Linked DNA regions of Homo sapiens: regions 2 and 3 are each linked to region 1. Evidence: fine-mapped expression QTL. A gene starts in region 1. Each other region holds a variant in brackets. All regions are shown on one strand. Distances are from middle to middle. Region 1 holds the start of SHPK (sedoheptulokinase). Region 2 overlaps TRPV1 (transient receptor potential cation channel subfamily V member 1). Region 3 overlaps TRPV1 (transient receptor potential cation channel subfamily V member 1).

Region 1 (10,680 bases):
ATGTCGCACCACACCCAACTTATTTTTGCATCTTTTGTAGAGATGGGGTCCCACTATGTTGCCCAGGCTAGTCTTGAACTCCTGGCCTCAAGCAATACTCCTCCTGCCTCGGCCTCCCAAAGTGTTGGGATTTACAGGTGTGAGCCACCATGCCCGGCCTTAAAAAGTTTTTTTAATGCCTTCCATAACAGGGAGCTCCCAACTTCCTGCAGGAGCCTCATCCTTGGGCATTCTGCTGGGAAGTCTCTCACTGAGCCACTGTGTCCCCTTGCAGCTCTGGTCCTCCATCAAAAACAACCCTGCCAGGCCTTTAAAAGCTCCTCGGACAGACTTGGATTCAAAAGTGGGGTTCACCTGCTGAAATATGACCCTGAGCATATTATTCTAACCTCTCTGAACCTCAACCTCTCATCCACACAATGGGGACAACAGTGTAATCTATGTCACCAGGTTGTTGGGAATATCCGACGAGATCATGCAACTGATGTCCTCAGCCAGGCACCAGGCATGTGAAGTGCTCATTGTGGTTTTACTGTCTTAGGTTCTCCTCCTCAAGGCCAAATAGAACAGGTTACCCACCTCCGCACTGTGGCAGATCTTCATAAGACAACCAACTAGAAATGCTTAGCAACTGAACCCATAAAAAGGATATGCCGGCCGGGCATGGTGGCTCACACCTGTAATCCCAGCACTTTGGGAGGCTGCCGGTGGATCATTTGAGGTCAGGAGTTCGAGACCAGCCTGGCCAACATGGTGAAACCCCGTCTCTACTAAAAATACAAAAATTAGCTGGGCGTGGTGGCAGGCACCTGTAGTCCCAGCTACTCTGGAGGCTGAGGCAGGAAGACCACTTGAACTCGGGAGGCAGAGGTTGCAGTGAGCTGAGTTTGCGCCACTGCACTCCAGCCTGGGTAACAAGAGTGAAACTCCACCTTAAAAAAAAAAAAAAAAAAAGATATGCCCTGGAATTTTCAAAATCACAAATATGTAAACAACGACAAATGTGCCCCAATTCAAAAGCATGCCCTCCATGTCCTGGCATCTCCTGCAGCTATAGCCAGTCTCTCGGTTGTCTGCACTAATGTTCTGAGATACTGACATGGTAAAGAGAAAGCTATGGAAAATGCACTCTGCTGAATCCTTCAGGAGAATCCGAGAAAACACTCTCTTCCCTCTGCCTGTTCGTGGATAACGTGCTGATGATGTGGGAGTGGGCAGTTCCTTTGTTCACCTAACATTGGTACAGAATGCTCACCCACGCAGGAGGCAGCACGTATTCGTCCACTCCAAGAAACAAGACCCTATTCCCACTGCAGGATAACCCGACCCTTCACAGAAAGCCCCGCACAGCACTGCTCTAGTTCTGGAAGTGACTGCTACCAGCCTGAGAGCATCCCCGAGCCCAGCATACCTTGGCCTGTTTTCCAAAACACGACTCCATGCATCTGGCCCGACACCCCGATGCCCACGACGCTCCGGAGCTGGGGTCGGGGAAGGGCAGCAAGGCACTCGTGTAGGGCTTGGAGGATTCTACTCACATCCTGCTCCCGCCCCTGGAAGCAAAAGAGAACACATGGGCAGGGGCAGACACACAGGCAGGGGGAGGGGCGCAGGCCTCCCGGGATGTCCTGGAGGAGGAATGCAGTGGGCAGCATCCACTCCCTAACTTCACAGTTGAGGCACTGCTGCAGGTGAGTTGCAGCAAACTGCCTGGGCCTGCCCTCCACTGGGGTCAGACTCAGCTGAGAACAGCATTCTCTGTGCTATAAATAGAAGAAATAAGGCCAGGCACTGGTGGCTCAAGCCTATAATCCCAGCACTTTGGGAGGCCAAGGTGGGTGGATCACCTGAGGTCAGGAGTTCGAGACCAGCCTAGCCAAACAACATGATGAAACCCCGTCTCTACTAAAAATACAAAAAATTAGCCGGGTATGGTGGCATGCACCTGTAATCCCAGCTACTCAGGAGGCTGAGGCAGGAGAATCGGTTGAATCTGGGAGGCGGAGGTTGCGGTGAGCCGAGATCACGCCACGGCACTCCAGCCTGGGTGACAAAGTGAGACTCCATCTCAAAAAAACCAACTAGAGGAATCCACAGAAAGTTCAGAAGAGAAGAAGGGGAAGAGAATTGTGGCTCAGCTCTCAATAAATGTCAGCTCTTTGAGGAACTAGCAAAGCTAAGGTCTTAGAAAGGCATCTGAAGGCTGAGTTCTCAGACGTCTTGCTTCCCTCCCGGGAGTGCTGTCTTCCCCTCCTCGGAAAACCTCTCGCTTGCCCCTGTCAGCCTGCGGCCTTGGTCAGGGGCAGCTCTTGGCTCCTAACAAGCAGGAACAAAGAAGAGAAAGAAGGGAGGAGAGGAGGGGTAGGATGGGGCAGGGAGTACAGGGGAAGCACAGCCTTTTCCTAGGAAGCAGCCCCAGAGCTCAACAAGGATTCTACATGCAAGAGAGGCCACAGCCAAGAGGAAGTGGAAGACAAGAGGCACAGAGGAGCCAGGTGGCTATGCAGGATCACCAGAGGGAGGAAAGAAGAGCAGGGTGGGGACATGGGGGTGGGGGGCAGGAAGAAGGGTTCTGGGAATAGACATTTGTTTAGACCCTCACTGTCCAATACTGAAATCGTTAGCCACTTGTGGCTAGTCTGAATTGACATGTAAATGTAAAACATGCACCGGACTACAATTTAGTATGACAAAAAATATACACTATCTAATTTAATGCTTTTTTTTTTTTTTTTTTTTTTTTTTTAGCGATAGAGTCTCTCTCTATTGCTCAGGCTAGAGTGCAGTGGCATAATCTTGGCTCACTGCAACCTCTGCCTCCCAGGTTCAAGTGATTCTCCTGCCTTAGCCTCCGGAGTAGCTGGGATTACAGGCTCACACCACCACGCCGGGCTAATTTTTGTATTTTTAGTAGAGACGGGGTTTCGCCACGTTGGCCAGGCTGGTCTCAAACTCCTGGCCTCAGGGATTCACCCACCTCGGCCTCCCAAAGTGCTGGGATTACAGGTGTGAGCCACCGCACCCAGCCTTGATTATCACACATCAAACTGATAATGTGCTGGATACACTGGGTTAAATAAAATATGCAATTAAAATTAATTTCACTTGTTTATTTTAATAGGGCTGCTAGAAAATTGAAAAGGCCACGCCTGGCTCCATTTGTAGGTTACATTTCTTTTTTTTTGAGACGGAATCTCACTGTCACCAGGTTGGAGTGCAGTGGTGTGATCTCAGCTCACTGCATCGTCTGCCTCCCAGGTTCATGCGAGTCTCCTGCCTCAGCCTCCCAAGTACCTGGGACTATAGGTGCGCGCCACCACACCCGGCTAATTTTTGTATTTTTAGTAGAGACGGGGTTTCACCATGTTGGCCAGGATGGTCTCGATCTCTTGACCTCGTGATTCGCCCGCCTCGGCCTCCCAAAGTGCTGGCATTACAGGCGTGAGCCACCGCGCCTGGCCTGCAGGTCATATTTCTACTGGACAGAGCTAGTTTAAAGAGTCCTCCCAGCTGGGCGCAGCGGCTCACGCCTATAATCGCAGCCACTGGGAAGGTTGAAGCAGGAGATCACTTGATCCCAGAACTTTGAGACCAGCCTGAGACCAGCCTCAGCAACACAGTAAGACTCCACATGGCCATGGGGTGGTGTGTCATCCCAGGACAGAGCTGCTGTTTCAAATGGTCCCAGGGTGAGTGGGTGCGTGAGTTGTGTGGGGGGAGACACGGGAAGAAGTAAGCAGGCTGGATGTGGTAAAGACAAGGAGGCAGTGTTCAGCAGTTAGAAACAGTTTTAGGGGCGGGTGTGATTGGGGAGTAGCTCTTGGACAGACCCCCAGTGTAACAGGAATAGACATTGCCCCCACTCCTTGGCTCAGAATATCAGTTGGTCTACATCCACGTCGAATCCTCGCGCTTTAGACTTGCACACAGTACTTAGAAGCTCATTAAATCCTACTCCTCAGGCCTCTTTTTACAGCGGAGGAAACTGATGCCCAGAGAGGAAAAATAAATATAAACTGTGAAAGGGTCACAGAACTGCCCTCGAAAACCTTGTATTTTAAATGGGCAAATACCAAAAACTGATTGTCTGCACAGCTGCCAAGCTTGACCCTGGTATAGCTAATACTTATGAGTGAAAAGTATGAACTTGAGGAAAGAACACAGCCAGCAGATATTACTTTTTTTTTTTTTTTTTTTTTTTTGGAGACAGAGTCTTACTCTGTTGCCCAGGCTGGAGTGCAGTGGTATGATCTGGGCTCACTGCAACCTCTGCCTCCCGAGTTCAAGCAATTCTCCTGCCTCAGCCTCCCAAGTAGCTGGGATTACAAGCACGCATCACCACGCCCGGCTAATTTTTGTTATTTTGTAGTAGAGACAGGGTTTCACCATGTTGGCCAGGCTGGTCTCGAACTCCTGACCTCAAGTGATCCACCCACCTCCGCCTCCCAAAGTGCTGGGATTACAGGCAAGAGCCACCGCGCCCGGCCACAGATATGACTATAGATCACTGGTTCCTACTCGGGGTGGTCTTGTCACCTAGGGAACATTTGGCAACATGGAGACATTTTTGGTTGTCACATCTGGGGAAGAGGGGCAAGCGTGGCTGGCATCTAGTGGGCCAGAGATGTTGCTAAACATTCTACAACATGCAGGACACCCCTCACACAACAAAAACTATGCAGCCCAAAATGTCAGCAGCACCAAGGTTGAGAAACCCTGCTATATAGACTAACTCACAGCAGTGCTGTTTGTCCCAGAGCACGATTCATATGTGGTGTGGGGGGGTTAATGACTGGCCTCCGCTAAGCACTTCATTAAATAGGTGTGACACACTGGGTGAGCCTGTAAGCACAGAACAGCCTGCTGAAAGCTGGGGAGGGAGGGCAGAAAAGTTTTCAAGAAGTGGCCGTGCTGCCGCCCCTACTGGGAAGTGAGGAGCCCCTCTGCCCGGCCACCACCCCGTCTGGGTAGTGTACCCAACAGCTCATTGAGAATGGGCCATGATGACAATGGCGGTTTTGTGGAATAGAAAAGGGGGAAAGGTGGGGAAAAGATTGAGAAATCGGATGGTTGCTGTGTCTGTGTAGAAAGAAGTAGACATGGGAGACTTTTCATTTTGTTCCGTACTAAGAAAAATTCTTCTGCCTTGGGATCCTGTTGATCTGTGACCTTACCCCCAACCCTGTGCTCTCTCAAACATGTGCTGTGTCCACTCAGGGTTAAATGGATTAAGGGCGGTGCAAGATGTGCTTTGTTAAACAGATGCTTGAAGGCAGCATGCCCGTTAAGAGTCATCACCACTCCCTAATCTCAAGTACCCAGGGACACAAACACTGCGGAAGGCCGCAGGGTCCTCTGCCTAGGAAAACCAGAGACCTTTGTTCACTTGTTTATCTGCTGTCCTTCCCTCCACTATTGTCCTATGACCCTGCCAAATCCCCCTCTGCGAGAAACACCCAAGAGTGATCAATTAAAAAAAAAAAAAAAGTGGCCATGCTGGGTGCGGTGGCTCACACCTGTAATCCCAGCACTTTGGGAAACCGAGGCAGGCAGATCAGTTGAGGTCAGGAGTTTGAGACCAGCCTTGCCAACATGGTGAAACCCCATCTCTACCAAAAATACAAAAAAATTCTCCAAGCATGGTGGCGCACACCTGTAATCCCAGCTACTCGGGAAACTGAGGCACGAAAATCACTTGAACCCGGGAGGCAGAGGTTTCAGTGAGCAGAGATTGCACCACTGCACTCCAGCCTGGGTGACAGAGCGAGACCCTGTCTCAAAAAAAAAAAAAAAAAAAAAAGAAGTGCTCTATTTCAGGAGAAACTGGCACTTTCTGAGCCTACTCTCCCCTAATGCCAGCTCTCCTGCTCACCCCACCAGGGTCAGAGCCAACTTTGCCTCCAATTCATAGTCCTTTAAGTAAGAATCCTTTTAATATGCCCTAATGTCCCAACCAAACTAATCTTGAAAGCTTCTATGTAGATACAAAGTGCTCCTGAAATCCCTATCCTCAGAAATGCTTCTGAGCCAAATGGGCTCTGAACCCTAAACAACCGTGTCCATGTATGTGGCAAGAGCTTGTGAAAAACAAAGCTGGGCCAGGCGCAGTGACTCACAACTGTAATCCTAGCACTTTGGGAGGCTGAAGTGGGCAGATCACTTGAGGTCAGGAGTTCAAGACCAGTCTGGCGAACATGGCGAAACCCTGTCTCTACTAAAAATACAAAAAGTAGCCGGGCGCGGTGGCTCACACCTGTAGTCCCAGCTACTCGGGAGGCTGAAGCAGGAGAATCACTTGAATCCAGTTGGCGGAGGTTGCAGTGAGCCCAGATCACGCCACTGTACTCCAGCCTGGGCAACAGAGCGAGACTTGGTAAGAAAGAGAAAGAAAGGAAAGAATGAAGGAAGGAAGGAAGGAAGGAAGGAAGGAAGGAAGGAAGGAAGGAAGGAAGGGAAGGAAGGGAAGGAGTCTCGCTCTGTCACCCAGGCTGGAGTGCAACGGAGCGATCTCGACTCACTGCAAGCTCCGCCTCCCGGGTTCGCGCCATTCTCCTGCCTCAGCCTCCCGAGTAGCTGGGACTACAGGCGCCCGCCACCACGCCCCGCTAATTTTTTGTATTTTTAGTACAGACGGGGTTTCACCGTGTTAGCCAGGATGGTCTCGATCTCCTGACCTCGTGATCCGCCCGCCTCGGCCTCCCAAAGCGCTGGGATTACAGGCGTGAGCCACCGCGCCCGGCTGACCAAAGGTTTCTTGGTCCGCATTCTGCTTCTGTGGAATGAGCCAGGAGCCAGTTAGGCCTGATTTGACATCTGATTTCCGGAGGAAAACCCAGACTCTGCCCTGGGCAACAAACTGAATCCTGAACTTGAGGTCACAGGGCAGGTGTGAGGAGCGGAGAGCAGCAAGAGTGAAAGGGAGGCCTGTGGTCATTCCATACACACAAGAGATCAGTTCCTCCAAGGTCAGGGGACAGAGAGCACAGGGATCCAGCGCCAAGCGCAAGGCCCCCAGAAGAAGCCAGAGAGTCGGGGAGGGGGCGGGGGGGAATCGGTCCCAGCAGGTGGGAAGGATTCTGGGACCAGACCTAAGGGATCATGAGCACAGCTGCTGCAGGCAGACGGGCCCCTGGAGAAGCTGGGGACAAGCTGGAATAGAGACTTCATTGCGGGAAGGGCTGTCAGGGAGGCCTCCTGGGGTGGAAAAGGGTGGTCAGGAGGCTCCTGGAGGCGGCGCGGCCCCGGGGGTCCAACTCACCTGGGGCCCGGCCACCGCGCTCTCGACCGCCGCCTCTGCCCGCGCAGCACGGGCACAGCTCGCCAGCACTGCGAACCCGGATGGGTCGTCGGGCGCGGCCCTCAGCAGAGCTGCCTTCACAGATGTGGTGCCCAGGTCAATGCCGAGGGTGATCGGCCGCGCAGCCATTATCTCCCTGACCCGCGCAGCTCCAGTCTGCAGCCAGCGGCCCCACAAGTCCGCGCTCTTCGCCCAGGGGGGCGGGGCAGGGGCGGGGAGTCGCCTGCCAATCTTTCAGCCACACCCAACATGGAGGCTTCTCGTCTTCCCACTGGCCGGGGAAGGCGAGCTTCCACGCAACCTCTCGGCGGGCCCCGGCTATAGGCGGAGAGGCGGCGGAAGGCGGGACCTAAAGGGGGCCCCGCCCCACGGGCTCTGATTTCCGCCCAATGGAGGGCGGTCTGAGCTTCGCTCACGAAAGGAGCCGGGAGGCGCTGGCGGCTCCAAGAGTCTCTGTGTCCCTGGCAGCGGACCTCATCTTCCCTCACGCCGGAGCCCCGATCTCTGCGCCCCGGCCCGACCCAGCTGCGCTCTGTCCGTCTAAGACGCGCGGAAACTACAACTCCCAGAGCTCATCTCGCCGAGATCCGGCCCCACGAGTCAGGTGGCGGAGGTCAGGTGACAGCGGACCCGCCTCTCCCAAAGTCTAGCCGGGCAGGGGAACGCGGTGCATTCCTGACCGGCACCTGGCGAGGCTCATGCGTCCCGTGAGGGCGGTTCCTCGAGCCTGGGGGCGCTCAGGTGAGAGCGGACGCGGCCTCCCCTGTTTCCCAGGCGGACCCCTTGAGGCACAGCAGGTCAGCGGGGCAGCCTGCCGGGGGTCCAGCGCCCTCAGCCGCGGCGGGCTCCTTTCCCCGCCACCAGTGCTGGCCTCGCGACACGGGACAACCCCCGGGTGGAAGGGCCCGAGCGGTGGTCAGCCGAGGCAGGGGCAGCGGGCTGCCGGGGTGGGTGCCGTTCCCAGCCCCTTACCTTCTGCTCAGTTGCCGCCTGGGTCTCGGTTGGGGAATTTGCAGATTGCTTTGGAGACGCTGAGAGAACCTTTGCGAGAGCGCCGGTTGACGTGCGGAGTGCGGGGCTCCGGGGGACTGAGCAGCACGAGACCCCATCCTCCCCTCCGGGTTTTCACACTGGGCGAAGGGAGGACTCCTGAGCTCTGCCTCTTCCAGTAACATTGAGGATTACTGTGTTTTGTGAGAGCTCGCTAGGCGCCCTAAGCAACAGAGGTAACCACTTTATATCCTTGTTTCTCAACCTCGTTATTCCTACCTACCCCCTTCCCATAAAATTTAATACCACTAGTACGCTGTGTATTTGTTTCTGTGGCCACAAACCATTGTAATAGCTAGATTTCTTCACTACCACCCCAAGCCAATTTTTTTTTTTTTTTTGAGATGGAGTCTGCAGCCTCTGTCACCCAGGCTGGAGTGCAGTGGCGCGATCTCGGCTCACTGCAACCTCCGCCTCCGGGGTTCAAGCGATTCTCCTACCTCAGCCTTCCGAGTAGCTGGGACTACAGGCCTGAGCCACCATGCCCAGCTAATTTTTGTATTTTTAGTAGAGATGGGGATTCACCATGTTGGCCAGGCTGGTCTCGAACTCCTGACCTCAGGTGATGCGCTCACCTCGGCCTCCCAAAGTGCTGGGATGACAGGCGTGAGCCACCGCGCCCAGCCTACCCCCAGCCAATTTTAGTCCCACTTGACAATGCGTGCTTTACATCTCCTCATTTAAGTCCTGTGAGGTAGTTACCACCTCCTTGTTTGGCACCACAAGGTCGCATAAGTAATAAATAGGTCAAGCCTGTCTCCAGTGCACACAGCCCTTGCCACTATTTGTGTACCCTCTCCAAAAGCAGGAGACCCAGGGAGTTCCAGGTCGTAGAACAGAGGACAGGACCAACTCATACCTGGCAGACAGGAGCTGCCACACTAGACCCCTAGCCCCAGGTTGCTCCTGGGAAGGGACTGAATGGGTGAGGAGCCTTCTTGAAACATGTGACATCTGAATGAGGCCTGGACAATAGTTAGAACTTACATAGGAAGGGCACGCCAGACAGAGCCCATTGTCAGGAGATACTTCATTTCTATCTTGTAGCTTTCACAAGCCACTAGTTGTATGTAATTATCAATCTGGTTTTTTTTTTGTTTTTTTTTTTTAATTTGAGACGGAGTTTCACTCTTATCACTCAGGCTGGAGTGCAATGGTGCAATCTCGGCTCACTGCAACCTCCACCTCCCGGGTTCAAGCGATTCTCCTGCCTCAGCCTCCTGAGTAGCTGGGACTACAGGCACATGCCACCACGCCTGGCTAATTTTTGTATTTTTAGTAGAGACGGGGATTCACCATGTTGGCCAGGCTGGTCTCGAACTCCTGACTTCAAGTGATCCAACTGCCTCGGCCTCCCAAAGTGCTGGAATTACACACACGAGCCACTGCGCTCAGCCTAATCTGATGTTTTTTAACATTTTAATTGACTTACCTCTCAATGTCGTTTTGTCTCTGCTGGCATCGTTCCTCCAGGGGTCTCAGCCTTTGAGGCTTGGGAATGTTTGCTGACCAAGTCTGTGAGTTTGAGAAGCTGGTTAGGCCTGATTCTGCATCTAATTTCTGGAGAAAAACCAGACTCTGTCCTGGGCAACAAACTGAATCCTGAACTTGAGGCCACAGGGCAGGTGTGAGGAGCGGAGGGCAGCAAGAGTGAGAGGGAGGCCTGTGGTCATTCCATACACGCAGGAGGGCAATTCCTCCAAGGTCAGGGGACAGAGCACAGGGATCCAGCGCCAAGAGCAAGGCCCCCAGAGGAGGCCAGAGAGTAGGTACGGGGTCATTCCCGGCCGGTGAGAAGGGTCTCAGATGAGGCAGACCTGCAGCAGGCAAAGAGAGAACCCTGGAGGAGACGGGCCAACAGAGGTCAGACAGCTGGAGCAGCCAGGGAGACTTCTTGAGGAGTGTGTAAGGGAGATGTCCGGAGATGCTGGAGGCCTTGGGGAAACTGAAATCAGAGTGGGAACAGGGATGTCTCCACACAGACCTTACCCAGAGCTCCCCACAGTCTGCAGGAGGCCCGTGAGACTGTGTACTGAGGCAGCACGGAGACCAAGCTACAGAAATCCATGCCGGCCTGGCTGCTCTTGACCCACTGTTCACCTGCTGTGTCTTGGGTTTACAGGAATGCAGCTCCCCATCTTCCACACTAAACCAAGGACTTGCTCTGGGGCTCATCCCTCCCCGAGTCCTCCTTGTGAATGACCCCAGCCAGTCCTGGAATGGTGACACTTGTCAAATAAAGTCTTGACAGGCGCGGTGGCTCCTACCTGTAACCCCAGCACTTTGGGAGGCTGAGGCGGGCGGATCACTCGAGGTCAGGAGTTTGAGACCAG
Region 2 (9,701 bases), 37 kb before region 1:
CGGCTCTTGGCCGTGGAGAGCTGGGGCTTGGCTGGAGGTGGCCTGGAGTTAGGGTCTCCATCCAGGGGGTCTGGGCAGGTGTCCTTTTGGAGTGGGTCCGCAGCTGCCCCCAAGTCTGTGCTGCTCCATTTCTTCATCCTTGCTGGATCCTCTGTGGCCCAGTGTGCAACCTGCAGCAGCCACCACGCCGGGGTTGACTCCCAAAGTAAGGACTGCTTGTCCTTAGACCCCACCTGCCCTCCTTGCCAAGGGCCCTGTGAAGCAGGGTACCCCAAAACTCCAACTTGCTGCTGCCCCCAGCCCCCTAGAACTGAAGTGTTTCCAGGACTGAACCTCTCACCCCAGAGGCCTCAGAGGTGAGCAGGCCTAGCAGGGCCCAGGCAGTCCTGCGGCCACTGACGTCGGCCTGGGAGGGTGGACAGGCCCCCGGCTCAGAGCCATCTGTGGTTCTGGGTTAGACCCATCCCTCCTCGTCTCTGGGCCTCAGGTGCCTCCTCTGCAGGGTGAGGTTGATAACCACCGCGCTGCCTCCCTCCCCACACAGAACAAGGAAAACGGCCGGGGTGGCTGTCGTGGGCTGAATTCAGGGAGGATCTCGGTGATGAGGATGGCTCAGTCCAGAAGAGCCAAGCAGACTGTGTCCCTGGAATAGGGTGAGCGGCAGAGACTGGCCCACCCACACCCACACCGCACTGCGGGGCCCTGCTGTGCAACGGGTCCACACATCATCAGCCAGGTGCCCGGCCTGCCTTTGCTCTTCAACCTCGCTGCCACAGCCACTGAGCTTATACGAGATTTTGGATTTTGTGCTTTTTGTCATTTTTATGAATCAACATCTGTCAAGCATCCTGGCCTTGAATGTTTAGGCGTGTGTGTGTGTGTGTGTGTGTGTGTGTGTGTGTGTGTGTGTGTGTGTGTGTGTGTCTGTGTGTCTCACTCTGTCGCCCAGACTAGAGTGCAATGGGGCAATCTCTGCTCACTGCAACCTCCACCTCCCAGGTTCAAGCGATTCTCCTCCCTCAGCCTCCCAAGTAGCTGGGATTACAGGCGCCCGCCACCATGCGTGGCTAATGTTTGTATTTTTAGTAGAGACAGGGAACGTTTAGGCTTTAAGTGATTTGGAGCTGGTTGGTCTTCTAGGCCTAAACACCTAGAGATCAGCTGGCCGCTGGCAGCAGCATGTGTAGTTGGACACATGAGCTGATGCTATTTTCCACTCCCATCCTGCCCCATCCCCATGCTTCCCCTCCCTCTGGCTGGGCATCCCCACTCCCTGGCACCCAGGGGTGGCCCATACATCCCTCCCATAGCCTCTATTCCCATCGGGTCTCCACCTAAGGGCTTTTTCCTCTGTCTACCCTTGCACAAGTCCTATCACCACTCAGATGCTACTTCCCCTCAGGATCCAGCACTGATGCCGCCTCCTCCATGAAGCCCCCAGATCCCTGCCCTGCTCATGCTCCCCGCTGTCCTCCACACAGTGGCCCAGCCCACTGACCGCCTGTCCCACACAGCCTACCATGTGGTCCAGCAATTGCTATCTGTCACTGATTTATCTCTCCCGCACCCTGTGACCTCCTCCTGGGCAGGGACCTTTCCTGGTCCATCTCCTTATGAAGAAGCTGTACTGGCCTGGGCGCGTGGCTCACGCCTGTAATCCCAGCACTTTGGGAGGCCAAGGCAGGTGGATCACCTGAGGTCAGGAGTTCGAGACCAGCCTGGCCAACATGGTGAAATCCCATCTCTACTAAAAAAAATACAAAAATTAGCCGGGCGTGGTGTCGGGCGCCTGTAATCCCAGCTACTCGGGAGGCTGAGGCAGGAGAATCGCTTGAACCCAGGATGTAGAGGTTACAGTGAGCTGAGACTGTGCCACTGCACTCCAGCCTGGGCAACAGAGTGAAACTCTGTCTCAAAAAAAAAAAAAAAAAAAAAAAAAGAAGCAGCAGCAGCAGCAGCAGCAGCAGCTGCACACATGGGGAAATAAGAGCAATCAGACCCTTCTAATTGCCATTTCCATAGGAAGTTAGGGAGATTACTGTTCCAGCAGTGGCTACATTCCGGAAAACAGCCGCAGAAGAAATGAGAGGCTTCTCAAGTCCTGCATTTTCTTTTTTTTTTTTTTTGAAATATATAATCAGGCAATCTCCCAAGCCAGAATGGCTCAGAGAGACTCCCAAGTCCTACATTTTCAAGTTAAAATTCAGGCAGTGAAACTCCAGAGCACACAACTGGGCCATGGCTGTAAACCAGCTACGTTCTGAATCTCAGATCCATGAAAACACAGAGGCAGCCTCACCACTCCGCAGGCTGTGAACAGGACGGACGGCTGGCTACTGGCCATCTCCCTGCCTGCCTGTTGATCCACTTTCAACAGGCCTGAGTCTTTCTCTGACTCACCCATCAGGTGGACCCCCTGCAGCAGGAGTGTTCCCGGCCACAGAAAGCCGATTCCCTCATCTCATCACTCAATACCTATCTACTGAGTCCTCCTCCTCAGAGTCCAGCCCTGCGCTGGGGGCACAGAGAGGAGTCAGCTCCCCGCTGAGACAGAAACCAGGTACTGGCTGGGCGGAGGGACTGCAGGAGGGGGCAGGGTGCTGAAGAGGGGTCCATGGCAGTTGGTGATGGATGAGCTGAGCCTGGGAAGGGAACAGAGGTGGGCTAGGGTCTGGAGACAGACAGGGAAGCCTAGAGCAGCTGAAGAACGGGAAGTCAGTGGGACAGGAAGACAGGAGGCCGGGTTAGAACCAGATGGCCGTCAGCCTTAACTCCAAGGAATTGAAAGCCAACATGGTTGCATGGATGATGCTTTGGAAGCCTGGGGGGCCGGGTGCTAGTCTTCCCTTTCTGAAGATAACACCCCGTCAAGGACCGTTCACAGTGCGGACAGCCCTGGCAGCACTTAAAAGGCACCAGAAGCGAATGAGAAGCAGAATCGTTGATGCGTCTGAGCACGTGCACAAAGCAGACACGGTTCTCAGGACTCGCATTCCTTCACCCACTTCATTCCCACAACATCCCTAAGAGGGAAATACTTCACCGATGAGGAGACCGAGGCACAGAGCAGTTATGGCACGTCCCCGAGGTCACACAGTCAGAGATGGAACCCGGACTTGACCCCAGGCAGGCTGGCTCCAGAGCATCTCCAGTGCTCCACCACGATGCTGGAGGTCTGGGGCTCTTTCTCAGCAGTTCAACTCAGACCCAGACTCCACAGCAGGGCCTGGGGGCCAATCAGAATAGGCCCTCTCACCCAAGGGGCTAGGCATAAGACCTGAACCTGAAGCACCTCTCGCTCAAACAAGCAGCTCAGGAACCCCAAAATGCAGTGTGAATAAGACCCAGGTCATACCCATGCCTGGCTGTCCCAGGGATGTCTATGGTCTCCAAGAATAAGCTAAGAATAAGAATAGGGGCTGCTCGTTAGGCAGCCCAGCAAGAGAGCACCTGTTAGCCGGAGCCTCCCATGAACCTTTCGGCAATGTTCTTTGTCAGCGGCGTTGCCTTTTCCTCTGACGGGTCCCAGTCCAACCAAACCCAGCCAACAGGAAGCAGCCGGGATTGTGCTATCATTCAGTCAGTCGACAAACGCTGAATCTATACTGCACACTCTGCACCTGATTCCCTACTGGAAACCAAGCTTCTTCCAGGGAACGGGGTGGGACAGGAACTGAGGGGTCATGTGCCCTGGGCTGGGCCGGGGAACAGGGTCAGGACAGCCCTCCACTGCCAGGCCTGGAGTGTACCCTGCACCTAAGCCCGTGGTGATGCACCTGTCACCGCAAAACATTCTACAGTGATCAGGGGAACTTCTACCGTGATTTAGGCAAACGAGTGTTGGCTGTGTGATGGAGATGGTGATTCTGGTTTACACAAGACTCACAAACTCATCAATCTGGACTAAAGGACAATCCTAAAAGAATCGATTCTGCCCACAGAGACGTGGTATGATCTGAGTCTTTCTCAACTCCAAAGCCAGAACAGATACTGCCTACCCTCTGGGGGAAGGATCCCTTCTCTCCCCAATGCAAGTGAGACAACATGGGGTGTGGCTCCCCTGCTCCTCTCTCTGCCCAAAGCATCCATCCATCCATCCATCCATCCAAGTTCTTGGGAGCACCTCCCGCTCGCCACTGGGGACTTTCTGGAAGCTGGGAGAACGCTGGCCCAGGACCCAGCCAGATTATTCTCAGTAGTCCCTTCTGTCAAAGGGAGGCAGTAGGCTGCGGGCTTCCCAACCCAGGGGTGAAGAACAAAGAGATAGGACAGCAGCACAAGGACCCAGTGTGCCTGCTTCCCAGCCCTGCGCTCGTCCACTCCACAGAGAGGGCGACACGCTGAAAACCTCCGGCCACACACCAGCAATCTCAGCAGCAGCTGCAGCCTCCTCCCCCGAGGACGGCTGATGCAGGAGCAACAAGAACAAACCCCAGTAACAACAACCTCCACTCTCACCTCCCAGGTGCTTCCAAGGAGCCAGGCTGAGGGCACCACAAGTTCGCTTCAGCCTCACGACCACCTTTGAGGCAGCCACTCTTACTACCCCCCGTTTTCAGATAAGGTAACTGGGGCACAGAGAGGTGAGTGGACCTGCCCACAGTCGCACAGCTGGGAAGTGACAGGGCCCGGCTTTTGGCCACTCACTATGCCATCTTAAAAGCTAATGTCTGCATTGGCCATCAGACAAAGAAAGGGACTCACCAGCTAGACGCAGGCACACCCCAGGCCCACGGGTGCTTGTGAGCTTGAAGGCGGTTGCTACTCGAAGGGAGAGCTGGGCTCGTGTGGGAGAAGAGTGGTCTCCCCGCCTCCGTGGGGTCCCGGGCCCGGCCCTGGCAGCAGCTGCCCTGCACTAGCAGGAGTCGCTGTGGACGCCCTTCGGCACTCAAGGAAAAAACGCTTCCAGCGATGCAAGCAGCTGCCTTTGCTGCGGCTCTGATTCCCAGAGGATCCCAAAGCTTTTCCCATCATTTTTGCCCTTTTTCAGAAACCACTTAGCTGCTGCCCCTCCTCCAGCCATGCCAGGGCTGCAGAGCACTTACCAGAGCCAGCCAGAGCTGCAACCTCAGCTCTCAGGAAAGGAGGGCGCTGCTCGGCCTCTCAAACCTGTGGCTCCTGCCCCCGGAGGTCTGGGAAACGGCTCCACAAATGACATTCACAACCAGCGACGTCAAAACTAGCGTCCTGTAACTGTTCCGTTTTCAAAATAAAGAGGGAATGGAGGGTCGTGCTGCCCGCCACACAGTACTGGCCTGGCATTAGGGACTTGTTTTGAGAGTCCGAGCAACCTTGAACTAGTCCCTAACTCTCTTAGGCCTCTCGTTCCTGGGTCCCCAAACCTGGAGTAGGGGTTGGCGTCGAGGGGGTCTTCTGGGTCAGCCAGGTCCCAGCCTTTCTTCTCAACTGGGGGTTCCTCAGGGAACCACAAAACACAGATAACTATCAGTGTCATTTCCTTTTTTTTTTTTTTTTTTTGAGACAGAGTCTTACTCTGTCGTCCAGGCTGGAGTGCAATGGCGCGATCTCAGCTCACTGCAACCTCCACCTCCCAGGTTTAAGCGATTCTCCTGCCTCAGCCTCCCGAATAGCTGCAATTGCAGGCACCTGCCATTGCGCCCAGCTAATTGTTGTATTTTTAGTAGAGTCAGGGTTTCGCCATGTTGGCCAGGCCGGTCTTGAACTCCTGACCTCGTCATCCACCTGCCTCGGCCTCCCAAAGTGCTGGGATTCCAGGCGTGAGCCACTGCGCCCGGCCACAAGTGTCTATTTTCTCTCTTCACTTCATACCACCCTAAATGCACAGGAGAGAAGACCCACAAGAGAGAAACGCACAGGAGAGAGTCACATACAGCAGATAACTAGAACAATAGGTTTCATTCTCTCCCAGACCCTGGCTGAGAAAAACAGTGAGGTCTAGGTATGCATCCAGGCTGCGGCCCAAATGCCCTGCAAAAACCATCCTAGCAGCTGCCTGCGGGACGCCAACAAGCCGTAGGGCAGGTCCAGCCTGGAATAAGCAGCCACTGCCAGGGAGGCCCTCGTAACCCTGCCTGGGGTCGCTTGAAAGCTCTGACCCCTGAGTCAAGGCATTGAAGTGTGGCCACCCCATCAATTCCGCACAGCAGTTGACAAAGAGCTTTCCCAAACCCGCTCTCGCAGGCCGTACAGCAACCCCGGGCAGTGGGAGGGCAGAGACTGTCATACCCATTTTACAGGTGAGAAATGTGTGACGCTGGGCAATTAGACAACCGATAATTAGATAATTGCCCAGGCCGCACGTTGGTCTAGGCATAAAAGCCAGGCCCATCCCACCACGCCACACCCCACCATACCCCTCGCTTAGTCACTTTTTTTTTTTTTTTTTTTTTAGATGGTGTCTCGCTCTGTCTCCCAGGCTGGAATGCAATGGCGCAATCTCGGCTCACTGCAACCTCTGCCTCCCAGGTTCAAGCAATTCTCCGGCCTTAGCCTCCCAAGTAGCTGGGATTACAGGCACGTGCCACCACGCCTGGCTAATTTTTGTGTTTTCAGTAGAGGCTGGGTTTCACCATGTTGGTCAGGCCTGGTCTCAAACTCCTGACCTCAAGTGATCCACCTGCCTCGGCCTCCCAAAGTGCTGGGATCATAGGCGTGAGCCACCGCGCCTGGCCGCTTAGACACCTGTTTATGCTATGTGTGTCATGTTAGCTTCAATTAATATGAACGTTAGAATTCATTCTTGTTTATAAATTGTGGCAAAAGGCCGGGCGCGGTGGCTCATGCCTGTAACCCCAGCACTTTGGGAGGCCGAGGCAGGTGGATCACCTGAGGTCAGGAGTTTGAGACCAGGCCTGACCAACATGGTGAAACCCCATCTCTACTAAAAATACA[G/A]AATTAGCTGGGCGTGGTTGTGGGCACCTGTAGTCCCAGCTATTCGGGAGACTGAGGCAGGAGAATCACTTGAACCCGGGAGGTGGAGGTTGCAGTGAACCAAGATCACACCATTGCACTCCAGCCTCGGCAACAAGAGCGAAACTCTGTCTCAAAATATATATTTATATATTATAATAAGTTGTGGCAAAATATATATAACAAAATTTACCGTATTAACCATGTTTAACAGTACAGTTCAGTGGCACTCAGTGCATTCACACTGTTGTACAACCATCAGCATCATCCATGCACAGAACTTTTTCATCATCCCAAACTGAAACCCTGCACCCATTAAACACTAACTCCCCTTCCCGACCCCAACCCCCTAACGACCACCATTCAACTTCCTGTCTTTATGAATTTAACTATTCTAGGAGTCCTCTGGTCAGGAATCATACAGTATTTGTCTCTTTGCTTTTTGTGACTGGCTTCTTTCACTTAGCATAATTTCCTCAAGGTTCATCCATGTAGTAGCCTGTAAGAGAATTTCCTTTTTTTCTTTTCTTTTTTTTTTTTTCGAGATGAAGTCTCACTCTGTCCCCCAGGCTACAGTGCAATGGCGTGATCTCAGCTCACTGCAACCTCCACCTCCCTGGTTCAATCAATTCTTCTGCCTCAGCCTCCCGAGTAGTTGGGATTACGGGTGCATGCCACCACACCCAACTAATTTTTAGTAGAAATGGGGTTTCACCATGTTGGCCAGGCGGGTCTCGATCTCCTGACCTTGTGATTCACCTGCCTCAGCCTCCCAAAGTGTTGGGATTACAGGCATGAGCCATCACACCCAGCCCTCCTTCCTTTTTAAGGCTGAGTAATATTCCACTGGGGCGTGGGATGGATGGACCACATTTTGCTCATCCATTCACCAGCTGATGAACACTTGGCTTGCTTCCACCTTTGGCCATAGTGACTAGTGCTGCTATGAACATAGGCGTGCAAATATCTGGTCCTGTCCCTGCTTTCCATTCTTTTGGGCACATATAGACCCAGAAGTGGGATCTGTCATATATAAAAGACTCAGCAGTGGTGACCTCTCAACTTTCTAGTCCTCTGGGATCATTTCCTTCTAACAATGTGGGATAGAGCAATGGCTGGGAAAGGGGATGGTCATGCTTCTTCTCCAGAACCATTGCCTTAGCCTCCAAAGTGATTTCTGCCTCCAATAAAGACAGCACGGAGCCGGGCACGGTGGCTCAAGCCTGTAATCCTAGCACTTTGGGAGGCAGAAGTGGGCGGACTGTCTGAGGTCAGGAGTTCAAGACCAGCCTAGCCAACATAGTGGAACCTTGTCTCTACTAAAAATACAAAAAATTAGCTGGGCGTGGTGGTGCACGCCTGTAGTCCCAGCTACTCTGGAGGCTGAGGCACGAGAATCACTTGAACCTGGGAGGCAGAGGTTGCAGTGAGCTGAGATCACACCACTGTACTCCAGCCCGGGCTACAGAGCGAGACTCCATTTAAAAAAAACAAAACGAAACAAAACAAAAGACAGCACCATTTCCAGTGAACACAGCACACATCACTAAATGTGTCCTGTCCTCTTTGTTAACAGAGCCCTTGGTGCTAACAGTATCACCGGAGTCTACAGGGCACAGTGCCTGCTCAGAGGCCTGCAGGGGAAGTCCCGGCCCTCCTCCTGCCCTGGCCACTCCTGCCGGGACTCCCTGGCTGCTCTCCTCTTCTTGCCGTTCCCCACACCTGGGGGTCCAAGGACCCCGTCCGCAGCCTTATCTTCTCCAGCTCCACCACTGTCCTTGGAGACCTTCGCCTGGCCCCTCCCAAGGACCTCTCTGATGTGTCCAAGTCAGCGGCTGCTTCATCCAGAGTCCACCCAGCCCTCTTCCCTGAGCTCCATCCCTGCCTCCCTGAATCTGCAGGTGAAGCCCACAAGCCCCCTCCCCCCAGCATAACCCACAATGGGCTCCTGTTCCCTCCACATTCACTCCCCTCCCGCTCCCTGCAGCAGTCCCTGCCTGGAAAGGCATCAACTTCCTTCTGGCCACCAAACCCGGTGCCCTTTGTGACCTCCAGCCTCTCCTTCTCGGCCCTCCCTGGGCTGTTTCTGTGGCTTCCGTCCATCCCTCCTCTACCTGGGAGCCCCTTCTTCTCACCTGAATGACCAGAAGTGCCTCCTTTCCCTGGTCCAACCTCCCACAACCCCTCACCTCCAGATCAACAGTCCTGGAAGCTCATCCTGATCAGGCCCCCTTGCCTCTCAGGGGTCCCCACTGCTGAGCAACGCCCCACCCCCGCACCCTGAGCCCACAGACCCAGTCTCCTCTCCCACCGAAACCCACCTTCTGTCACCTGGGCACACCCCTTCCCAGCCACACTAAACGTGCTGACTCCACCCTTTCCCCCACCCTCCTCCATCCCAGTACCCCACTTAACCCATCTTCAAGTGCGAGGTGAGCCCTAGGGATGCTCAAATCCCACCTTCTCCCAAAGGCCCCAGCATAAAGAGCTCATTTCTCACCTTTTTTTTTTAAAGAGGTGGTATCTTGCATTGTCACCCAATGCAAGGGACTCACAATCATAGCTCACTGCAGCCTCCACCTCCTGGACTCAAAGGATCCTCCTGCCTCACCCTCCCAAGTAACTGGGACTACAGGTGTGCACCACCACGCTCGGATTTTTTTTTTTTTTTGGTAGCAACAGAGTCTCGCCATCTTGCCAGACTGGTCTCAAACTCCTGAGTTCACGTGATCCCCCACCTCAGTCTCCCAATATGCTGGGATTACAGACATGAGCTACCACGCCCAACTCCAGAAGTGCTCACTTCTAAA
Region 3 (5,360 bases), 29 kb before region 1:
CGGGTGGATCGCCTGAGGTCGGGAGTTCGAGACCAGCCTGGCCAACATGGAGAAACCCCGTCTCTACTAAAAATACAAAATTAGCCAGGCGTGGTGGTGCATGCCTGTAATCCCAGCTACTCGGGAGGCTGAGGCAGGAGAATCACTTGAACCCAGGAGGTGGAGGTTGCATGAGCTGAGATCACGCCATTGCACTCCAGCCTGGGCAACAAGAGCAAAACTCCATCTCAAAAAATTAAAATTAAAATTAAAAAAAAAAAGAAAAATACCCTCCTTCCTGCATTTCGTCTCTGTGTTCCTGTCACCGGGTGCCCAAGAGTCTAAAAGACCAGCTTCCGTGGAGGGCAGCGGTCTGCGAGCCGGTCAGCACCCTCCAGAAGTGGCTAGAGCTTGAAGTCTGAGCTGGGGAGGGGTCAGACACCCAGTCAGCACAGAACGCTGGAGCCCCGCTCTGCAGAGCTGTGTTCCAGGGCAGGGACTGGGAACAAGAGGGACGAGGGCCAATGGAGGGTCAGCAGGTGGGTAGAACCTGGACCTTGGATGGAAGAGGCCCGCGTGTGCTAGATGCCGGCTGTATGGACTCCGGCTGGTAGCTGAACCTCTGGGTCTACTTCTTCCTCCACAAAATTACAGCCAAGAACACCTGCCCTACCTGCTTTACGAGGCTTTTCTGGGATTAGTCAGGATAGTGGGTGTGAATGGGCTCTGAGCCTGGTAAAGCTCTAGGCAGGCATGAGAGATGACTGCTCTCATCTTCATTATTTCAGCCTGAGGACCACATCTGCTGACTGCTGAGCTGTATCCGGCCATTAGCTCGAAGTTATGACTAATTGTTTTTTAATGAAAAAAACAAGGTTTGCTTAATGTTTGATGAGTCACGCAAGTGAGCATCTCTGTATCAGGACTCTCCCACTTTCAAAGACTTGGCCTGTCCATCTACCTGTGGCTGAGGGGAGAGGCCAGGTGAGACCCTCTCTCCTGAGGGCCCACCATGTGCTATACAAATCCCCTAGCAGAGCAGTAGGGTCAACAGGGTGGTCTCTGCGCTCAAGAAGCCCACGATGGACAGGAAAGGAAGATGTGCACAGGCTCTCTCTTGACACTAGGCAGGGCAGGGCACCCTGTAACAGGCACAGGCCAGGGGCTCTGGGGCCAACAGACCATGCCAACAACAAATGTTGAGCCGGGTCTTGGCCTCCCCTGCAGTTGTAATCAGATGGCGTATGTGTCACCAGGGAGGCCCTTTGCAGAGGGCAGATGCCATTTGGGCTGGGCCTTGGACAAGGAGAAGGATTCTGCCCCACAAGGAGGACATTCCAAACATGGGCCTTGGCATGAGCTAAGGTGCAGGAGGACAGGGCTGAGGACACCTAGGCACCTGCTCTCAAAGAGCTTTCAGTCCACTTCAGAAGAAGAGAAAAATAGGCCAGGCGTGGTGGCTCATGCCTGTAATCCCAGCACTTTGGGAGGCTGAGGCGGGCGGATCACCTGAGGTCAGGAGTTTGAGACCAGCCTGGCCAACATGGTGAAACCCCGTCTCTATTAAAAATACAAAAATTAGCTGGGTGTGGTGGCAGGCACCTGTAATCCCAGCTACTCAGGAGGCTGAGGCAGGAGAACTGCTTAAACCCAGGAGGCGGAGGTTGCAGTGAGCCAAGATCGCACCACTGCACTCTAGCCTGGGCAACAGAGGAAGACTCTCAAAAAGTCTCAAAAAAAAAAAAAGAAAAAGAAAAAGAAAAAAAGAAGAAGAAGAGAAAAGTAGAGAACATGAAAGCCACATACACATGATGTGGACGGGGTCAAGGCCCAGAGGCAGGCAGTGTGTGGCGGGAGGAAAAGCAGCGGCTGGTGGGCTGGAGTCCCCTACCCTGCCCTGAACTGGGTCTGGCCCACCATCTCTCCAGGCTGTTTTACAGCCTCCTGTCTCCCAGAACACCCTTCCTCCAATCCAGCGTCCACACTGTCAGCTACACTCCCAAGGCCCCAGTCCTCCAAACCCCACTGTCTACAGGAGACAGTCCAATCCCCTCAGGCGGGCATGCAAGACCCTTCACAGTCTGCCCAACACGTCCAGCCACAACTCCTATAAACATCCTTCCATTCACACTATGACCAAGTTACACCAATTTGTCACACTCTGGACATGACGATCACTTTAATGTAAACACATTTACCTAGCCTGACCCCACTGCCTAGTTGCTAAAGAGAGTGGGTTCGCTCTGGGGTTTGAATCCTAGCACTGTGATCTCAGGTAAGTTACTTAACTTTTTTGTTTATCTATCTCTCCATGTGTGAAATGGGGATAACACTACCCACCTTCTAGATTAAATGAGGCCTGGCATGGTGCCTCATGCCTATAATCCCAGCACTTTCCGAGGCCGAGGTGGGTGGATCACTTGAGGCCAGAAGTTCAAGACCAGCCTAGGCAACATGGCAAAACCCCGTCTCTACTAAAAGTACAAAAAATTAGCCAGGTGAGGTGGTGTACACCTGTAATCCCAGCTACTCGCGAGGCTGAGGCATGAGAATTGCTGGAACCCGGGAGGCTGAGGTTGTAGTAAGCTGAGATCGCACCACTGCACTCCAGCCTGGGTAACAGAGTGAGACTCCATTTAAAAAAAAAAAAAGATTCAATGAATTCAAACAAGTAGAGTTTAGATCAGATCCCAGTACACAGCAGGTACTCAAAAAGAAATGTTAACTGTCGTTAGTAACCATGGATGGAAACCCTTGGAGGTTTAGCTCAATGTGACTTGTGTAAAGAATGAATTTCTCCTCCCTCTGGGCATAGAGGTGCTGTCATTGTCTGTGTCTTTTTCTTTTCCTAGGGTCTGTTTATGTAACCAACTGTTGGTATTTTTCCATTGCCTCGTGATGGAAATTCAACGGGGGGCAGTCTCTGAGAGAACACCCAGCTACTACTGGGCGCTCAGAAAATGTGGCTGCCTGGGTCTGTGCTGGGTGCATGG[G/C]AGACGTCCCAGGTGCAGGCTACTGAGGCTGCTCTGCTGTGGTGACAACCCCCAAATCTCAGTGGCTTCAAACATCAAAGGTTTATTATTTATTTATTTATTTATTTATTTTAAAGACAGAATCTCGCTCTGTCTCCCAGACTGGAGTACAGTGGCATGATCTCAGCTCACTGCAACCTCCGCCTTCCAGGCTCAAGCGATTCTCCTGCCTCAGCCTCCCAAGTAGCTGAGATTACAGGTGCCGACCACCATGCCCGGCTAATTTTTTTGTATTTTTAGTAGAGACGGGGTTTCACCATGTTGGCCAGGCCGGTCTCGGAACTCCTGACCTCAAGTGATCCGCCCTCCTCGGCCTCCCGAAGTGCTGGGTTTACAGGTGTGAGGCACTGCACCAAAGGGCGCTTACTTCTCTGTCCCACTGCACGTCCCTCGCTGGTTGGTGAGAACTCTACACCACACTGTCCTCACTCAGGGACCCAGGCTGACAGAGCTACCACTCTCTGGGGCACTGCCAGTCACTTGTGGCAAAGGGAAGGGTGTGTGGCAAGTAGCTCACTGGCTCCTAAAGACCTCTGCCCAGGAGTGACAGGCATTCCCTGTGCACGTCCCACTGGCCGAAGCGGATCGGGGGGAAGGTGCAGCCCTGCCGTGGGCTCATAGCATCGGGATACTGACGGCCAGCAAAGGAGCCCCGCTCACCACTTCTTCAGAAGCATGCCGGCCTCAAACCACTTACTGGCACCTCCTGGGAAGGAGGGTGGGTTGTGCACGTGGTTGTGACTTCAGGCAGCTGCACTCATCCCCCACCTAGACGGAGGCTCCAGGCCTCAGGCAACGGAAGCAGCAGGAGCAGCCCTGTTTATTGACAAACTGGGACCCTCCAAGGCTCAGTCCTCAGAGGCAGAGTGAATGCATAGTCTGGAAAGAGGACAGAGAGTTCCGGGGCCACACCAGGCACAAGGCTGGGCTGCCTGAGCTTGCTGGATGTCCATCCCGTTCCTAACCTTACATTTGCAGACCCCATCCACTGCATGCTGGGCAGGCGAGACAGGCTGCCACTCTGAGATTAGACGGCCTGGCTCCTCCCAAAAGACAAAGGACGCTGGTAAACTCAGCCTACTCTTCTCTCTCATGCAGCCTTCCTCAGGGCTGCAATGACAGCATCTTAAACTCATTTGGCTGAAAGAAAAATTACAGTAGCAGGCCAGGCATGGTGGCTAACGCCTGTAATCCCAGCACTTTGGGAGGCTGAGGCAGGTGGATCACCTGAGGTCAGGAGTTCAAGACCAGGCCAACATGGTGAAACCCCATCTCTACTAAAAATACAAAAATTAGCCAGGTGTGGTAGCACATGCCTGTAATCTCAGCTACTCGGGAGGCTGAGGTACAAGAATTGCTTGAACCCGGGAGGTGGAGGTTGCAGTGGGCTGAGATCGCACCACTGCACTCCAGCCTGGGCGACAGAGGGAGACTCTGCCTAAAAGAAAAAAAAAATACAGTAGCCCCCTGTCATCCACAGGAGATATGTCCCAAGACCCTGCATAGATGCCTGAAACCAAGGCTAGTATTGGATCCTGCATATGCCATGTTTTTTCTACACATACATATCTGTAATATAATTTAATTTACAAATTAGGCACAGTAAGAGATTAACAACAACAATAAAGTAGAACAATTTTTTTTTTTTTTTTGAGGCAGAGTCTCGCTCTGTCACCCAGGCTAGAGTGCAGTGGTGCGATCTCAGCTCACTGCAACCTCTGCTTCCAGAGCTCAAGCGATTCTCCTGCCTCAGCCTCCTAAGTAGCTGGGATTACAGGCGCGTGCCATCATGCCCAGCTAACTTTTGTATTTCTAGTAGAGACGAGTTTTCACCACGTTGGCCAGGTTGGTTTCAAACTCCTGATGTCAGGTGATCCACCCGCCTCGGCCTCCCAAAGTGCTGGGATTACAGGTGTGAGCCCCCACACCCAGCCAAAGTAGAACGGTTTTAACAATACACTCTAATAAAAGTTATCACACACTGTGACCATACTTTTGCAGTTTGAGGTGTGACAGCAAAACTGGCATGAGGCTGGGGTCAGTGGCTCCCGCCTGCAATCCTAGTACTTTGGGAGGCCAAGGTAAGTGGATCACCTGAGGTCAGGAGTTCGAGACCAGCCTGGCCAACATGATGAAACTCCATCTCTACTAAAACTAAATTAGCCAGGCGTGGTGGCAGGAGCCTGTAATCTCAGCTACTCAGAAGGGTGAGGCAAGAGAATCGCTTGAACCCGGGAGGCAGAGGTTGCAGTGAGCCAAGATTGCACCACTGTACTCCAGCCTGGGTGACACAGTGAGACTATGTCTCAAAAAAAAAAAAAAAAAGGCAAAAAAAACTAGCACGAATTT

Evidence for each region. PIP is the estimated chance that this variant, and not a neighbour inherited with it, causes the effect.
Region 2: its variant is the best candidate, but not a certain one, in a credible set for the expression of SHPK in blood mononuclear cells (TOPMed, PIP 0.61).
Region 3: its variant is fine-mapped to the expression of SHPK in whole blood (INTERVAL, PIP 0.96). The same link has a PIP of 0.9 or more in vagina.

Annotation. Positions count from the first base shown.
Region 1 is chr17:3,628,794-3,639,473 of GRCh38, forward strand. It overlaps SHPK (sedoheptulokinase), which reads right to left and starts at 7,457. Exons shown (of 7, transcript NM_013276.4): 1 at 7,259-7,457; 2 at 1,412-1,553. The coding sequence starts at 7,426. CTNS (cystinosin, lysosomal cystine transporter) reads left to right here and starts at 7,967. Exons shown (of 12, transcript NM_004937.3): 1 at 7,967-8,038; 2 at 8,314-8,523. It overlaps LOC105371493 (a long non-coding RNA gene), which reads right to left. Exons shown (of 6, transcript XR_007065579.1): 6 at 9,704-10,292. RefSeq lists enhancers at 5,009-5,874, 7,713-7,962 and silencers at 7,173-7,232, 8,243-8,332.
Region 2 is chr17:3,592,214-3,601,914 of GRCh38, forward strand. It overlaps TRPV1 (transient receptor potential cation channel subfamily V member 1), which reads right to left. Exons shown (of 17, transcript NM_080704.4): 3 at 1-170. The coding sequence starts at 137. Among named protein-coding and RNA genes, the nearest start is that of TRPV1, 12 kb to the right of the region's middle. RefSeq lists an enhancer at 2,097-2,597. The variant G/A (reference allele first, on the strand shown) is at 6,874.
Region 3 is chr17:3,602,892-3,608,251 of GRCh38, forward strand. The region is part of intron 2 of TRPV1 (transient receptor potential cation channel subfamily V member 1); the gene reads right to left. It overlaps SHPK (sedoheptulokinase), which reads right to left. Exons shown (of 7, transcript NM_013276.4): 7 at 5,349-5,360. Among named protein-coding and RNA genes, the nearest start is that of TRPV1, 3.8 kb to the right of the region's middle. The variant G/C (reference allele first, on the strand shown) is at 2,973.